5 linked regions of the Homo sapiens genome follow. The protein of the gene in region 5 purifies or fractionates together with the protein of the main gene of each other region. This does not show direct contact. Each region holds a gene or a part of one and is shown on either strand. Other genes may lie near its edges.

Evidence for each region.
Region 1: the proteins of SLCO5A1 (region 5) and STK39 purify together in Homo sapiens (affinity purification with mass spectrometry; one large-scale study listed by BioGRID and IntAct). This does not show direct contact.
Region 2: the proteins of SLCO5A1 (region 5) and CAND2 purify together in Homo sapiens (affinity purification with mass spectrometry; one large-scale study listed by BioGRID and IntAct). This does not show direct contact.
Region 3: the proteins of SLCO5A1 (region 5) and YEATS2 purify together in Homo sapiens (affinity purification with mass spectrometry; one large-scale study listed by BioGRID and IntAct). This does not show direct contact.
Region 4: the proteins of SLCO5A1 (region 5) and GOLPH3L purify together in Homo sapiens (affinity purification with mass spectrometry; one large-scale study listed by BioGRID and IntAct). This does not show direct contact.

Annotation. Positions count from the first base shown.
Region 1 is NC_000002.12:168,237,498-168,241,403, forward strand, and holds part of STK39 (STE20/SPS1-related proline-alanine-rich protein kinase), read right to left. Parts: intron 1-3,906. UniProt on the Homo sapiens protein: Effector serine/threonine-protein kinase component of the WNK-SPAK/OSR1 kinase cascade, which is involved in various processes, such as ion transport, response to hypertonic stress and blood pressure.
Region 2 is NC_000003.12:12,813,657-12,817,562, reverse strand, and holds part of CAND2 (cullin-associated NEDD8-dissociated protein 2), read right to left. Parts: intron 2,423-3,906; coding exon 2,130-2,422; intron 1,697-2,129; coding exon 1,555-1,696; intron 1,190-1,554; coding exon 1-1,189.
Region 3 is NC_000003.12:183,749,596-183,753,501, reverse strand, and holds part of YEATS2 (YEATS domain-containing protein 2), read right to left. Parts: intron 1,430-3,906; coding exon 1,249-1,429; intron 1-1,248. UniProt on the Homo sapiens protein: Chromatin reader component of the ATAC complex, a complex with histone acetyltransferase activity on histones H3 and H4. YEATS2 specifically recognizes and binds histone H3 crotonylated at 'Lys-27' (H3K27cr).
Region 4 is NC_000001.11:150,690,312-150,694,217, forward strand, and holds part of GOLPH3L (Golgi phosphoprotein 3-like), read right to left. Parts: intron 1-3,906. UniProt on the Homo sapiens protein: Phosphatidylinositol-4-phosphate-binding protein that may antagonize the action of GOLPH3 which is required for the process of vesicle budding at the Golgi and anterograde transport to the plasma membrane.
Region 5 is NC_000008.11:69,666,218-69,668,840, forward strand, and holds the end of SLCO5A1 (solute carrier organic anion transporter family member 5A1), read right to left. Parts: 3' UTR 829-2,623; downstream 1-828.

The sequences.
Region 1 (3,906 bases), on a different chromosome or scaffold from region 5:
AGAGAGTGCATCCCTGTCTTGTGCCAGTTTTCAAAGGGAATGCTTCCAGTTTTTGCCCATTCAGTATGATATTGGCTGTGGGTCTGTCATAGATAGCTCTTATTATTTTGAGATACGTCCCATCAATACCTAATTTATTGAGAGTTTTTAGCATGAAGGGTTGGAGCCTGGGATTCTAAGGACTTTGGGACCATAGGCAAGTTTCTTCAACTTTGGCCATTAGAGAGTTTTCAGTTACAAGACAAAGCAGCTGGGATGGATTTTTTTTCCTTTGGTCTCTTCTAAAATTAAATTTCCTAATTCTCTCTATATTCTTGTACCACTTCTCACTTAGGAACTCACTTATAAAAACCAGCCATGACCTGCCATTCCTTCCCCAGGAAACCCCGTCTGCTGCTCCTCTTCCTTTGCTTTCTTGAGTCACCCCATAATTAAACAAACAGAGATAGTGACATTGCCTGAGAGAAAGAAAGAGAACCAGATGATTCAAATTAAAATCTAAGCTACACAGGATAGGTCAATAGGCACCAACCTACCCAAAATGTAATCCTTTTTCAATCCCCAGACTAAACAGAGTAGGAAATAAAGCAGTTGGAATACCCTTAGTACAAACTCTGGTTCAAACTGATGCAACCAGTTCAAAACAAAATCATTACTTCTTCTAAGACCCCAACCATCCACAGAATGATTATGAGAAGTCTCACAACTGTCACAGGTCACTGGCTCCAAAATACTCCCTGAATGAAGATCTATCATTCACAGGGCAGAAAGTCATCCACCTCTACTTTCCATCTAGTTTTTTCTGACAAATAGCTCCAGTGGTAACTAAAAGTTAGAAACCTAAACCCATAAATGTCAATAAAATGTATATTTTTTACCTAAGGGAAGAATCACATGAGCACCCCCAATACTAGGCTTCTGAGAGTTATACTAAATGCCACTTACCTGGAAGAAGTTTGAAAATAAAGTCAGGGATAATATGAATGTAGAGGTCTCTACCATTTCTATCTTAAAATGTTTTCCCATATATCAAAATACACAATCAGTTTAAAAGGTCAATTAATCTCAATCCTCAATGTCCAAGAAGTTTCTTAAAGCTAAGCCAGAGTTTATTCTCAAATAACTGTTTGGCAAGTGAGAAGAAATGTGAAACATATCATTTACTCACATCGGATTCCAAAGTATTTATCTAAATCGACTCTAGAAATAAAGTATGCCAATCCATTCTCTAAAGGATTTTTCTCTTCTGCTTTTCAGTTAAGCCAAGTCTGAAATGACTTTTTAATTAATATATTGAATTCTTGTCTAGTATCAAAAACTTGGCCAATTGATGGCAGATAGGGAAAAAAGAAACACTTGAATCACTTCAACTAAGAGCTGTTTTGGTATAATCTAAACACAACTATCCTAGAGGAAAACGTATGACTTCACATGATTACATGGAGAATTTTATTTAAATAGGAAAAAAAAACTTTCCCAAAAAGTACACTGTAAAGGAATTATAACATCTATTAGAATGACCCGGTTCTATGGTCTTAGCAGGTACCACAGCCATCCTATCATGTCAGTCCCTTATAAGTTATAAAAATAGAACTCCTGCCATCCTAACAACCTTTGAAAGCCACTTGTTCTGCAATTCTGCTCCTGTGTTTCACCTGCATCCCTGATCGTCTCCAGCAGCCCTGATTCCTACACAGGAAGAGGCTCCACAGAACTTCAAGGTGAGTGTTATATATAAATACATGAACAGCAAGAGAGAGAGATCACTGATATACAAAAGAAAAGAAAGCTCTAGAGCTTTTGAAGGGCAGTGTGGGACTTCCCCACTCCACCCTACAATGTCTACGGATGCCAGAACTGTGGCAGGGAGCTCTGGGTCCTTTAATCCAGCCAGAAAGGCCACCTCTCAGTCCTAAGACCTCAGGAGAGCCAGGCCTCTGCCTGCCTACCTCCACAACACAGGCAGGTGGACGCACTCAAAGTGCTTACTCTTGATCTGTGAGGATTAATGAGCTAATTTCTACAGAGCCCTTTAAGCTGATTGGCCCAAACGCAACTAAATAAACCCCATCATTAACCACGGGCAAGATCAAATCCTCAGGATCCAGTGAGGCAAATTTTTAGACGTCAGGCAATGTTCCTCCTCCACAAGGTGAGGAAGGAGTATTTATCCCCAAAACTCAGAACTTCATCCAGAAAACATTTATTAAATATCTATTATGACATGCAGGGTAGGGAGATGAGAGACCCTGTCCTCAAGGAAGACTTAACAGTCTAGAGCCAGGCTGGCAAGGAAAATACAATTTGCAGATAGTGTGACAACTGCCAGGGAGCGAAAGACCCAACAGAGCCTGAAGGGCAAGGGGGGAGGGGGGCTCTAGAGGCAGAGATTGTTTGTGTGACAAGAAATCACTTGTTCAGGGTATGAGAAGAGAGGCCCAGTCAGGGTGCTGGTTACATGGTGTGTTCAATTCATGAACATGCACCAAGATATACATTTTTTATATGTACACTTTTCCACATGCATATTATACTTCAATAAGGGCAATATTTAAAAGAAAAGACAGAGCTCTTTGCTACATAGATGAAAAATGGAAGGGAAGGGTCTTGGAATGGTGTTCCAAGCAGAGGGAAATCTTGCCTAGAAGAGGCATTTCAGCAACTGCAAAAGGTTCCCACTGGCTGGAGAGTCTGTCCTGAGACTGGAAATTACAAGATGTGGCTGAAAAGGGAGGCAAGAGACAATTCCCAAAAGACCTTAAACACTGTGCTTCAAATTAAGTCTTGAGGGTGACGGGAGAGCTACTAAAGGCATTTCAGCCTGGGAGCAACGTGATCAAGAATTTTGGTATAGCAGTATCTTTCTGGTAGCAATGCACACTACAGCCAGAAACAAGAATGGAAAAAAGGAACCTGGTTAGGAAATTATTACAATAATCCAAATAAGAATCGATAAGGGCCTGAACTAAACCAGTGGTGGCTGACATGAAGAGTCAGAGTCAAATCAAAGAAGATCTCAAGGAGGTGGAGTATTTAGGACTTGGTGACCAAACAGATGTGAGAGATGGACAAAGACAGGAAAGTATAGGATGGCCAGCAGGTTTTGCCCTTGAGGGCTCTAAAGATGATGAATATAGAAGAAACAAGATTAGGACTGAGGCCAGGGTGGAGAGACAATGAGTTTAACTGTATGAAGTTCCTGTGAAACATTCAAACGAAGACATTAAAAAGGTAGTCCAAACACTGGTATACAGTCAGGAAGACCCTCAGCATTTGATGTGGTAATTGAAGCTTCAGACAGACAGAGATGTGGATCTGGGGCAGGCAAGGGAGTACAGGAAGTCCAGAAGGAAGGCATGGCATGGAAGCTCAAGCAAATGCCTTTCCAAAAGGAGAATGAAAGATGGCACCTAACCCTGCAGAGAGCAGAGAAAAGGACTGCAGTGTCCACTGGCTCTGGCCACAGAAGAGTCACAGTGATTTCAGAGAGTAACTTGGGTTTCTTAGGGAAAGGGCAGAAGCCAGACTGCAGTGGGCTGAGAGGGAATGGGAGGTTCCTTCCAACAATTTAGCAGTGAAAGGAAGAAACGAGATAACCGAGTAGCCAGAGGAGAAAGAAGTAGGGAGAGTGTTTTGTTTTGTTCTCTTTTGTCATTTAAACATAAGAGACAGGCTTGAGAATATTTATAAACTGAGGGAAAAGCAAAGAGGGAAAGAAGGAGACAGGGAAGCAATGGTGATGACTTTATCTGAAAATGAAGGCCTCTGTCCTCGCACTGGCTGGGACACACAGGGAGCGTTTCTTTTAGTCAGCAGCATTTCCTGCCAGCATGGCAGCCTCCGGGCAAACTCAGAGGTGGAGGAAAAGTGCAGTCCTAGCAGGTTGTTCTCGGAGCCCTCTCATAA
Region 2 (3,906 bases), on a different chromosome or scaffold from region 5:
ACATCCTCACTGGGTGACCCCAAAGCTTCCAGGAGCACCGCCTTCAGCTCCCGCTGGTGGCCTGGCCCAGCCACCTGACCCACCTCAGCCAGCGACAAGAATGCCAGGACCTTGACCCCCGTGCTGGAGTGGGGCGACCTGGCATCGCAGACCAGGCGACTGGCTGTGCTTGCCGCCTCTTGGGGACAGGCAGCTGAGAGGGCTGCCACACACCGGGCCAATGAGTGGAACACCTGCTTGTGCAGGCCAGGCCCACCATCCACAGCCTGCTCATAAACAGGCGCAGTGAGCAGGCTGATGAGTTTGGCATAGTCCACACACGGGGGACGGGTCCCTACCAGGGCCTGCAGGAAGCCTTCAGCAGCTGCCAGAACCCCGGCTGGCAACAGGGGCGAACGCAGCAGCCGCAGCAGCTCTGAGAGCACAGGGCCACTGACCTCCACCAAAGAGGCTGGCTGGGCCTGGGTCACTGTGGCAAGGAAGTCCACAGCCAGCTGGGCCACATGCATGTCGCTCTCGTTGACCAGGGCAGGCAGCTCAGCCAGCACGGCCTGCACGGCAGACGGTGGGAGGCTGAGGCCCTGGCTCTGGGCCAGGGCGTCCAGGGCTGCCAGTGTGGCCAGTCGCAAAGCCCGCTGGTTCTTCCGCAGGAATGAGGCCAGAATGTGCAGTGCCTCGGCCAGGATGGGCTGTAGGTCAAGCTGTAGTGGGGATACGGCCACCAGCGTAAGCGCCTTGATGGCGGGCAGCCGGGTGATCTCATTCCGCAGGCGGTCCAGGAGGAGCAGTAACGTGGGCTCCAGGTCATCCCCAAGCCGGTCACCCAGGTGGCCTACAAGGTGGCCCATGCAGGAAATGGCCCGCTCCTTCACCTCCTGGTCCAGGTCAGTGGCACGAAGTCGCGCCAGGGTGACAGCAGACATCTCTCCAACATATGGCTCAGGATCCAGCATCCGAGGCCTGTGCAGCGGCCACAGGGCCCGCACCAGCTCCTGCAGCACCACCAGGGCCTCGGCTGCAATCTTGTAGAAAGAGTCAGCCACACAGGCCATCACAGGTGGCAGGAGGATAGGCAAGTGTGGGTGGAAGGCCTCAGCTGGTTCGGTGCCCAGCAGCCCCTGCAAGAAGGCCAGGGCATCCATCCGGATGGTGGAGGAGCTGGAGCGGTCGGCCAGCGAGAAGATGATGCCTGCAGGGTGAATGCAAAGGTTATGAGGCCACCGCCTCTGATGCAACACGGCCCTCCCTGGAAGCAAGGCTGGGGTACCTACAAGTGCCTGAGCTGGACTGAAGCACCTAAACTCTTCTGCAGAAGTTTCCAAGAAGTCAGCCCTGACCAGTGGCCAGGGCTGAGGGAAACATGTCCAGGGAACTCACTGGAGCCAGCCTTGTTCTCACTGCTGGTAGTGGGAGGCCACTGGAGACTCTTGACCAGGGACTGAGCCTGGGATTGGGTCTCAGACTGTCTCAGGAACTGGGGGCTCAACTCAGGGGTGGGGTCTGGGTTCTGGAAGTGGCCCAGAACAGCAGATACCTGGTTGCAGTCCAGCCTACCTGATACCAGCACAGGCATATGCTCGGCCAGGCTGCCTGGGAGGACACCCGCCAGCTCGGTGAGGAGGCTGAAGCATCCCTGGCGGGCTCTGACGCTCCGATCTTTAAGCTGCCGCTGCAGGGCCTTGACCACAAGGGGCACCTGTGGGCAGGAGGGGGAAGTCAAGGTCAGGGAACACCCAAGAAACCTACCCACCTGCCCACTACCAGGAGGCTTTGCCAGACACATCCCCAGGGAGGATGTCGGCATCAAGATATCTCCCAAGCACTCGTCCCTCACTCTGTGCCAGGCTTTTGGTGACCGCACACAGACCCTTGGAGAGTAGGCAAATTTTCTGCGTCCATTTTACAGGTACAGAGAGACCAAGCAACTTGCTCAAGCTCACTCAGGCAGGCTGGCTGTCACTACTACACTCCAGAAGCCTGGCTGGCTCCCGCCCCCCACCCCAGGGACCCCTTCCCTTCCCTTCCATGGCTGGATGTTCTCCCAGCTGAGTTTCCAAGTCCAGGGACACTAACAGTGAGTGGCTGGGTAGGCAAATCGGGGGTAGGGGTGGAGGTGAAGGCACGCCCACCTGTCCACGTAGCATATGGAGGTTGCTGCCGGTCTGGGTGGGTTCCTCCATGGCCTCCAGCCATCCCTTCGGGGGCTGTGTTTGCCGCAGCAGCACGATGTAAGCAGTGAAGACGTCAGCCTTGACGTTCTCCTCGCGTTCTTTGAAGCGGCGGATGAGCACAGGTGCCAGGGTGCAGTGGAAATCGGGCAGCAGGTCAGGCCGCGAGCTGATCAAGGCTGCGATGCACTTGGCAGCTGCCCGGCGCACCTTCCAGCTCATGTCATCGTCATCGCTGTACTCGTCTTCACTCTCTGGGGCAGGAACAAGACACACGTGGAACCCTCATCTCCCAGGACAGGTCTGTGGCTCGGGGGAGAAGGGACAGGGAGGAGAGAGAGCTGGGCACTGTGCTTCACTTTTTGATGATCAGCATTTATAGATACCCTATGGGGAACATTCCCTACCTTTTAATGGGCATCTACTGAGTGCTACGGATGGGGCTAAGCATGTCAAACCCATAATCTTATTTTAGCTTCATGACGACCTTTTGAGACAGGGATTATTTCCCCATTATAGAGATGAGAAAACTGGGGTTTAGATAGAGGAAGTGGCTTGCCCCAAGTTAAGGAAATACTTGGAGTTAAACTAGGGTCCTCCCCTCTGCCTCCAGACCCTTAATTGTCTGGACTGTACCAGGGAAAAAACAGACTTCCAAGTCTTCATGTAGACTTGGAGAATCAATTTGGGGCACAAAACTCATCTTTTGGCATCAGGTTTGGCTATGTGATGTTTCGTTTACTGGGACTCCAGAAGGGAGAAGGGACAGAGCCTCCCTTTGGCCTCTTCTCTCCCCCGATCTCTGCCTCTCAAGGGTCCTGATTCCAAAGGCTTCCAGGCAGGATTAATAAAGAGGAAATGCTGGGTTTGTGTGGCTTTCTACCTGACAATCTCCCTGAAAGTCAAGGGCTCGTGCAGTCTTTACCATCACCTCAAAAGTGAAGGTACTGCCAAGCTCCATTTTACAGACGATAAGACTAAGACTCAGAGCGGGTGAGACTCTCAGGGCACACAGCGAGGAACAGCAGAGCTGAGATTCAGGTCCACGAGGCCCAGCCCTATCACCTGTGGAGGCACACAGGAGGCTCAGAGGGGGACAGTCTTGCCTGGGAGCACCCCAAGGCACAGGCTCAGAGCCCAGCATGGCCTTGCCCATACCACTCTGTGGACCACTTGGACCCACAGGGTGGTGTCTGGACAGCCACAGTGGGCCACGGCCACCGGGCAGCTCAGCAGCCATCCCCTCTAATGGATCACTGTCACCCCCACAGTAGGCCACCCACGAACACACATCCTTAGCTCTCTATTACTGACAAGTGTCCCACCTCCCTGGCTTGGCATTCAAGGCCCCCGCATGCCTGTCCAATCTCATTTACCATCCCATCTTGTTCCAAGTACCCCATCAGGCTCTAAATCCATCGTCTCCATCGATGCCCTGCCTTCAGGCCTAGGGGCATCTCTGCCCTGGAAATCTGTCTGAATGACAGACAGGACCACAGGCATAGGAGGAAAGAAGCTATCAAGTCCACCCCCATTGAGACATCTTGCTCCCCTGCCAGTGCCTGCCATTCCACCATCAGAGCTTTCCTCTGCTGGGTTAAAGACATTATCTCCTGAAAGCCATTCATAAAAGGGTACACGGTGGCAGTGCAGAGGTGGGGGAGCCTGACAGACCTGGCTCTAAGGCCCAGCTATGCCAATTCCTAGTTGTGTTATCTCAGGCCACTCTCTTCTCAGT
Region 3 (3,906 bases), on a different chromosome or scaffold from region 5:
GGCTGGGAATTACAGGCATGAGCCACCGTGCCCGGCCCCTCTTGTATCTTATTAAATGCCCATAAAAAAGATGCAATTGAAATCTAAAGAGGAATAAAGTTGAGATTTTATAAAAGAACTATAATACTAACCACATTAAAATATAGGCTTAGAAATAAAACATTTAAGATCAATTTTATATCTTTTATGCTTATATATGGGAACATTAAAATATGTATTTATACACATATATTTGTTAAATTTAAAAATGGCATGGTCAAAATACATTGTTGGTGATGAATCTTTTCTTAAGTAAAACCAGGTATTTAATATCCAAGTTTCTTGCTCGCACAATCAGAAGCTGAACCATAAAGTCTTCCTGTAATACATTATAAGGAATTATCAAGTGATAAAAATCTGTTTTAGGCCAGGCGTGGTGGGTCATGCCTGTAATCCCAGCACTTTGGGAGGCCAAGGTGGGTGGATCACCTGAGGTCATGAGTTCGAGACCAGCCTGGCCAACATGGTGAAAACCCATCTCTACTAAAAATACAAAAATTAGCCGAGAGCGGTGGTGGACGCCTGTAATCCTAGCTAACAGGGAGGCTGAGGCAGGAGAATTGCTTGAACCCAGGAGGTGGAGGTTGCAGTGAGGCGAGATCATGCCACTGCACTCCAGCCTGGGCAACAGAGCAAGACTCCATCTCAAAATAAAATAAAATAAAAATAAATTTAAAAATCTTATGTTTTTTAGCTATTTTTACATTTTATAATATGTCAGTAAAACTTCATGGAAATTTTTTTTTTTTTTTTTGAGATGGAGTCTCGCTCTGTTGTCCAGGCTGGAGTGCAGTGGTACCATCTCAGCTCACTGCAAGCTCCACCTCCCGGGTTCGAGCCATTCTCCTGCCTCAGCCTCCCGAGTAGCTGGGACTACAGGCACCCACCATCACACCCAGCTAAATTTTTGTATTTTTAGTAGAGACGGGGTTTCACCGTGTTAGTCAGGATGGTCTTAATCTCCTGACCTCATGATCCACCCGCCTTGGCCTCCCAAAGTGCTGGGATTACAGGTGTGAACCACAGCTCCCGGCCGGAAAAATATTTTTGACAAGAGTGGAAATTTGGCTTTCATAACAGAACTGTGTAGTAGAGGCAGCATGTCCACTTATAGCAAAGTTATTTTCCATATACTATAGGTCTCTGAAAGCAGCAAATGGGAAAGGAATGCCTCAGAACAACGCTATGCAAGGAAAACTGCTGTATTACCTTTCTCCACAGAGGTATCGGGTACTGGCTCATGTGACTGCTTTATTGGTGAAGAAGCTTTCACTGGGGCTGGAATGGTCAAAGGCAAAGATGGAGGGGCATCAGAGATGTCAGACTCCGAGGACTGAGGATAGATACAGTCTTCTCCGAGAGAATGGCGATGGAGTTCAACATCCACTACCTAGACAATTGGGCAACAATCAGGCTCATGAGTCCATCATCAATGTCACAGAAAGCTCAAGTCCCGTCCAAGAATGTAATCTCCGGGATGTGAGAGATAACTTCTAATCACACTTCAAAGGCAATTTCAATCTGAAGAACTAAAGGATTTATTCTAGAAGGTAATCTAATCTGGCTTAACAGACACATACCTCAGTGAAAATCTAATCTGGTTTAACATACAAATCTCAGTGAAATTATTCACAAAATTGGGACCTCTTGATTTTGCTGTTGCTACTCCTTACAACGCTATTCCTCCAAATCTTTGCATGGCTGCCTTTCTCACCAGCAGGTCTCAATGAAGTAGCACCTTCTCAGAGAGACCATGCCTAACCACCCAAGAATAAGCTACTTCCTTATCCCCCAGCTACTCTTATCTTCACAGCACTTATTTGTAACTGAAGTAATTTTATTTGCTTTTGTGTTTACTGTCTACCCTCCCCATTTTCAATGCCACTAAGAATTTGACTCTGAAGGAAGAAGCTACCGTGTTCATTTCTGTATTCCCAGCACCTGGACCAGCGCTCAATAAGTACCTTCTGATATAATACAGCAGATTTCTCTAGACAGAGTAAGATTTAATTAGTGAACTCTGATTAAATGGCTATTGCTGATTATTATATGATGAATACAAAAAAAGGGAGAGAAGGTGAAGAACAAAGTTGGAGGTCTCAGACTCCTGATTTCAAAATTTATTACAAAGCCATAGTAATCAACAGTATGCTGCTGGCATAAAGACAGACATACAGACCAATGGAACAGAATAAATCCTCACATATATGGTCAAATGATCTTTGACAAGGGTCCCAAGACCATTCAGTGGGGGAAAAGACAGTATTTTCAGCAAATGGTGCCAGGGAAACTGGATATCCATATGCCAAAGAATGCAATCGGACCCTTACCTTACACTATATACCAAAATTAACTCAGGATCAAAGAACGAAACATAAAAGCTAAAACAATAAAACTCCTAGAAGAAAATGTAAGGGAAAAGCTTCATGACACTGAATTTGGTAATGGTTTCTTGGACACGACACCAAAAGCACAGGCAACAAAATAAAAAATAGACAAACGGGACATCAAACTTAAAAACTTCTGTGCATCAAAGGACACAATCAACAGAGTGAAAAGGCAAAAATATAACACGGAATGGAAGTAAATATTTGCAAATCATCTATCTGGTAAGGGGTTACTATCCAGAATATATGAATAACTCCTGTCACTTAGCAACAACAAAAACCAAACCACCTAATTTAAAAATGGGCAAAGACATTTTCTGAATGTCTCTGAATAGACATTTCTCCAAAGAAGATAAACACATGGTCACCAAACACATGAAGGGATCCTCAACATCACTAATGATTAGAGAAACACAGATCAAAACCACAAGATATCACATCACAAACAACAGAATAACTACTATAAATTAAAATACAAAAAAAATTAACAAATGCTGGTGAAGACGTGGAGAAACTGGAATACGTGTGCACTGTTGGTGGGAATGTAAAATGGTGCGGCTACCACGAAAAAATATAGCAGTGGTTCCTCTAAAAATAGAATTACCATAGGATCCAGCCAATTCCATTTCTGGGTATATACCCAAAAGAACTGAAAGCAAGGATTTGAATAGATACCTGTACACCTACGTTCATAGCAGCACTATTAACAACAGCCAAAAGCTGGAAGCAACGCAAGTGTCCATCAGCAGGTGAACGGATAAACAAAATGTGGTATATACATACAATGCAGTATTATTCAGCCTAAAACAGGAAGAGGGGCGGGGCACAATGGCTCATGCCTATAATCCCAACACTTTGGGGGGCCAAGGCAGGCGGACAGCTTGAGCCCAGGAGTTGAAGACAAGCCTGGACAACATAGTGAGACCCTGTCTCTACAAAAAATAAACAAGTAGGCCGGGCGCGGTGGCTCATGCCTATAATCCCAGCACTTTGGGAGGCCGAGGCAGGCAGATCATGAGGTCAGGAGATCAAGACCATCCTGGCTAACACAGTGAAACCCCGTCTCTACTAAAAATACAAAAAAAAAAAAATTAGCCGGGCGTGGTGGCAGGTGCCTGTAGTCCCAGCTACTCAGGAGGCTGAGGCAGGAGAATGGCGTGAACCCGGGAGGTGGAGCTTGCAGTGAGCCGAGATCGAGCCACTGCACTCCAACCTGGGCAACAGAGCGAGACTCCATCTCAAAAAATAAATAAATAAATAAACGAGTAAGTAAATAAATTAGCTGGTCATGGTGGCACACGCCCACAGTCCCAGCTACCTGACAGGCTAAGGACAGATTACTTGAGCCCAGGAGGTCAAAGCTGCAGTGAGCCGTGATTGCACTCCAGGCTGGGTGAGAGAGAGCAAGACTCTTTCTCAAAAATAAATAAATAAAAATAAATTTTTTTACAAAGGAAGGAAATTCTGACATACGCTACAA
Region 4 (3,906 bases), on a different chromosome or scaffold from region 5:
TACTGGGTTCTAAACAGAGGATCTTAGGGAACTCTCCAGTAAAAGTTTGGGAGTTTGGGACACAAAATTTAACATTTAGGATTTTTTCCTTTTTTGACTTGTCACAAATCCCAAACCATGTAAAAACAAGCAATTATATACACATTAAAACATACTCACAAAGAACATAAAAATGTTATTAAGCCCTTAATTTGGACACAAAAATGAAATGGGCTTTGCTGTTTTCATTAGGCTGATTCTCTTTTCCCTAAAGGAAAGAGTCTAAAAGTCTCTGCCTGGTAACAAAATCTATAATCTGGTCCAAATCGAATTTACTGATTTTGAATCCCATTGTTCTCCACCTACTTCAGTCATACTGGCCTACTCACAGTTATCTCCCAAACTCATCAAGCTCATGATACCTTTGCTCACTCAGGTTCCCTCATCCAGAACGTGTTTCCTTTTCTCCATTCATGTTAATCCTCCCATTTTTAAAGGCATGGCTTGTTTTACTGCCTTTTTCTATTCTTCCCCGGATTACTCTATCTCATGATGGTTTCTCCTCTCTCTAACTCCCTTGGCTCATTCTAACATGCAAAAACTTGCTTTTTATTGTTGTTTACTTTAAAAAAAATATTTTGCATTGTGAAATATAATGTACACACAGAAGAATAAACAAAACAAAGTAAAAAGCTTAATTATTCCAAAGTGAAGATCTATGGCCCAGGTGCAGTGGCTCACGCTTGTAATCCCAGCACTTTGGGAGGCCAAGGCAGGTGGATCACTTGAGATCAGGAGTTCAAGACTAGCCTGGCTAACATGCTGAAAACCCTTCCCTACTAAGAATACAAAAATTAGCCAGGAGGGACAGAGCAAGACTCCGTATCAAAAATAAATAAATAAATAAAAAAGGCCGGGAGCAGTAGTTTACGCCTGTAATCCCAGCACTTTGGGAGGCCACACCTATAATCCCAGCACTTTGGGAGGCCAAGTTGGGTGGGTCGCCTGAGAGGTCAGGAGTTCAAGACCAGCCTGACCAATATGGTGAAACCCCATCTCTACTAAAAATACAAAAATTAGCCAGGCATGGTGGCGGGTGCCTGTAATCCCAGCTACTCAGGAGATTGAGACAGGAGAATTGCTTGAACTCGGGAGGCGCAGGTTGCAGTGAGCCAAGATGGTGCCACTATACTCCAACCTGGGTGACAGAGCAAGACTCTGTCTTAAAAACAAAAACAAAAACAAAAACAAAACTATGAAACTTCCTCTAGGTCCAGAAACAGAAAATTGTTACTATCTAGAAATCCTCTCCATTTTCCTTCCTAATTACTAACACCCTTTTCCTTCCCCTATCCCTTACAAAAAGATAATCACTATTCTAAAAACTATAGTAATTCCTGGCTTGATTTTGTTTATAATTGTACCACCTAAATATGCAACCTCAAATACAATAGTTTTTTGAGTTTCATATAAATGGAATCATACAGTATGTATATTTTTGTGTTTGGCTTTTTTTATTGAACATAATGTGAGAAATATACATGTTGTATAACAATGTTCATTTTCATTCTGTATAGAAAACATATTTATACTCATTTAAACAAATGGATGACTCTTTTTTTTTTTTGATGATTCATTTTTATCCATTCTGCTGTTGATGGACCTTCGGGTTACTTAACTTTTAAAAAGTATGTATCTTTTTGTCTCTCCAGCTAGAATGCAAGTTTCTTGAAGGCAGGGACCATATACTATACTATTTTATATTTACCTTAGTATTAATATTTAGCATAATCCTAAGCACATAATGGGTGTCCTCAATCACATTAAATATTGATTAAATGAATCTATTGATAGTTTGAGAGATAAGAAAAAAATAAGTACAGTTGGGAATCAATTTAATATTTTTAGAGATAGTTATGTAACTGGCCTTTTGTAACTACTACTATTTAAATAAATCACAAAGTTTGACCTCTTCTATTCATTTACACCTAAGGATTTATTGTCTTTTATTCTTCCTGAGCCAAATGAAAGCTAAATATTTGTTAACTATCCTCAAAAATAAAATTAGAGCAATTCAAAAGGTGGTTAATTGTTATGTGCTATTATTTATTATTTTTTGAGGCCTTGCTCTGTTGTTCAGGCTGGAGTGCAGTGACACAATCCTGGTTCACTGAAGCCTCGACCTCCGAGGCTTAAGCCATCCTCTTGACTCAGCCTCCTGAGTAGCTAGGACTACAGGCATGTGCCACCATGTCCAGCTAATTTTTTTGTTTTAAATTTTTTGTAGAGATGGTGTCTCACCATGTTGCCCAGGCTGGTCTTGAACTCCTGGGCCCAAGCAATCCTCTTACCTTGGCCTCCCAAGTGTTAGGATTACAGGAATTAGCCATTGCATCCAGCCATCTGCTTATTTTGTACAGTATCTCACCAATATGTTAAGTACTCACCATGGCCATAGCTCTTAATGAGCTGCTTTATTTTTTATTCTATTTCCTAAAATTTATATTAACCATTATAAACACATGAAGACAAGCCCAAAAGCAAAAATTCCAGTGCATAAGGTCAGCAGGAAATTAATCATTCCTATTCAAAGCTAAAACAAACCAAATAGCTTTTAGTTCTATATCCTCTTTTTATACAGTCAGTGACTGTTTCCTAGGTAATGTGTAAACGTCTCAAAAGAGTATTTATATCACCTAATCTTCAGTCCTATTCTGACATTCTCTTGGAGAGCTGGTTTTGCCTTTTCGTTTATTTGCCTTTTATAAAACTGAAGGCTCATCAACTTCTCAGCAAACAGGAAAATATATTTCCGGGCAAGAATTTCTGATATACCTACATCTTGGCCAGGTACACATAAGCATGTCTCTAATATTAGTTTTAACAATACACAGACTATAACTGGTCTGTAAATTTTGTTCAAGTTGGTAATTTAACAAGAAAAAAAGTAAAAAGGAAAATAGTAAATAAATGAAAGGCAAAATCTAAACAACAATGGTATTTCCAAGTCGAAGAATTATGTAGAAAAGAAGAGCTGTTACTACTTGTATGCAGCCAATTCACTTCTAGCTAAGGATAATTATCAAAGCCAAATTTAGTACTTTTAAAATCTAAAATAACATTCTAATTTTGTATGTTTTCAAAACTGAGGCCAGTAATAAATATACCTCTTTCTTTTCTTGCAGGCGGTGGGCGAGGGGGGGCGGTTATTTAAGGCTTTCCTGGAAAGAAAGCAGATTGTTTAAAATGTTACCTTCGTAACTTCTTCATGAGGGAATAGTGTGATGAGAAAACACAGCAAAAAGTTACAAATGAAGGATGATGATGTATACTAGTAGAGAAGCCAGGGAAATTTCTGGTTATATCACAAGACTCAGGACCTTAAGACTAACTGTACTATAAAATAAATGTTCCATTAAATAAGGAGACATTTAGGGAAAAAAGAGAAAAGCTAAAATTATTTTTAAAAATTTTCAAAAATTAAAATAATCCTCAATTGTTTATGTATGTGTGTGTGTGTGTGTGTGTGTATATATATATATATATATATATATATATTTTTTTTTTTTTTTTTTTTTTTTTTTTTTGAGGCAGGGTCTCACTCTGTCATCCAGGCTGGAGTGCAGTGGTGCAATCTTGGCTCATTGCAACCTCCGCCTCCCAGGTTCAAGTGATTCTCCTGCCTCAGCCTCCCGAGTACCTGGGATTACAGGCACCCGCCGCCACACATGGCTAATTTTTTATTTTTAGTAGAGACGGGGTTTCACCATGTTGGCCAGGCTAGTCTTGAACTCCTGGCCTCAAGTGATTCACTCACCTCGGCTCCCCAAAGTGCTGGGATTACAGGCGTGAGCCACCGCGTAATCCAACTGTTGATATTTGCCTTATAAAGATGCACAGAGGAAAATAAAAAATTATTTCTGCTAT
Region 5 (2,623 bases):
TGAATGATTAGTTTGCTATTCAGTAGCATACTAGGAGACAGGAGGAAGGGAGATTTTCAGTGCTTTGTTGACCAAGTTTTGATATTCATGCCTTTAGAAATTATTCCAGTTTTTGGAATAATGAGTTGGACTTCTTTGGAAATTATTCTTAACCTATCAAAGTCAACCATGTGGCAAAGAATTATACCCACTGAATTCTTACCATTTACTCCTCTATATTTTCAGGACCTCAGGCTCTTAGGCAGAGCCATGAGACTACTTAGGGCCAATGAAATGGGAGAATAGACACATGGCACTTCCAGGCTGAGAAAGAGAAAAGCTCTTTTGCCATTCTCAGGGCATTTCCTTTCTTTGCCCCAGCAACCAATATTAACGATGAAAGTTCCAGGTGGTGCCACTTCAAGATGGTGGAGCCTCTGTCAGCCTGGATCCCTGAAAGACTATGTGGAACAGAGCCATAATAGATATGTAAGTGAATGAGAAACAGACCTGTGTGTTATGAAGCCATTGAGATTTCAGGGTTAATATGTTATTTAAGTATAACTTAACAAATCACATTCAAGGTACATAGCTCTGTGTTCTGAAAGTCTGTTTTGAATTTCAATAAGTAAGTGATGAATTACTTAAAATTATTCTCTTTGGAGACTCAATAAAAAAAAACATGCTATGGCTCTTTAAACTATACTCCTAAAACTTTACACATAGAACATTCTGCTTCAATGTAGAGTTAACAGTTAGGTAAGGAGTTAATGATGTAGGAGGGGTGGACAATCGCATTGGTCTCATTGCTTCATCCCTTCAAACAACAAAGTTCTAGAAACAATTTCATTTCAGTCCAACACACTTTATTCATTTTTAACTTTTTTCTTAATTTTCAATAATCAAGTATTCAAGATGCTGTAAACCAAGATTAGTACATCGACAACAGATTTCATTAAACACACGGAAATTATACATCTTTTAAATTACCTTAAAAAGTCTCCAAATGAATATCATTTTAAAAATCACAAAATCAAACTTCTTTATGCAACAGTGCAAAACCTTTCATCACAAACATACCTCTACACAAAACACACACACACACACACAAACACACACTCCACTAAGAACCTAATGCCAGTTTAGTTGACACAGTATTACATTTCCTTAAACAAAAGAGTCAGAGCCTGACTTGCCTGTTTCAGGATTCTAAATTAACATTTGGGGTTTGGGGTAGAGGTATGTATTTTAAGAAAAATGCCCATTATTTGGTACTACTCTTACCAATTATCAATTACCAATTGCCAATAATCGGTACTAGTCTTACCAATGATTCTTATTTTTCATTTCTAGATACAAACTTTAAACCTCTTTTGTTCACCCCTTTGGTTTAATGTGTCCCTGCAATTACTTTAGTTTCAATAATATTTTCTCCTTCAATTTTAACATGTAGTGATAGGATACCAGAAAAGATAACACCTTCAAAACCCCAGTGTTAAAAATACCTTACATGGGTGTAATCTTTTTGGAGAAGAAATAAGAAAAGGTTACCTGAAATATTTTTTCTACCTTTCTCTGAAATTATTTTTGGCATCTGATTATTCTTGCTAAAATAAATATCAAAAGCACTGAGTATTCCATAGAAAAGTATCCCCCCTTTCACGCTTCATTTTTGCAGCATAGATGGAGTAACTGTTGAAATGAGAGTAATGGATGCTTGTTTTCTGGAAAATTCTTCAGATTTCCAAACACAAAGTACATGCAGCCACTTAGCAGTGAAATACTGTGAATTCAGTGGCGCTTTTTAGTGGTGAACATGCGTCATTAAATACTTTTTAGCACCAAGGCATTTTTTTTAATGTTGCAAAAGCAAACACCTAGGGAGGGTTTTTTGTTTTCTGTTTTTTGTTGTTGTTGTTGTATTTGACCCTTCCTAGAGCTGAGTAAAACTGAAGTCTTTAAAATAAAACCTCCTCAAACATACACAGATCTGATTCTAATGCAACAAGAAGTTTGGGACAGATACAGCCAGCAGCATCCCAAAAGATGAAGAAGAGAAAAAGACAAAAAGATAAAGTGCATGAGGCAACTACCTTTGCCTGCCAGCCGCAGCACTCTCTTATTATGGAAGAGAAAACACAAATGTGTGGAAAGGCTACCTACTGGTCTGTATAACAGAGAACTAGCAAACCTGCAGTTTAGGCAATTCTGGGATTATACAGTATTTTGGTATCTATCTGCTACTTAGAATACTCAGTATGCACCTACATATCAATAGTTATATTCATGTGCTGTGTCATCTCTGATGTTTTAAGTACATACACGATCACAAAATATAATTGGCTACCACCCGAGGCTTGGGCTTGCCTCCTGCTCCTGGGTGCACTAGGGAATTCCCATCAATGCTTCAGCTCCATCCAAACTCTAAAGTTTCTCTTTGGTACATGCACGGTTTCTACAAAACAGGGCCAAAAAGACACTTTCTGGCTCCAAGTGCACCAAAGAGCGCAAGCTGGAATTGTGGACTGAAGAAGAATTTTCTTGGTGGTTGGTGAACATGGAGGACCACCATGACATCCATGAGGCCTTACTCCATGTAACTCCCCCTTCTCTGAAGGCTGACATTTCCAAGTGCATGCCACTA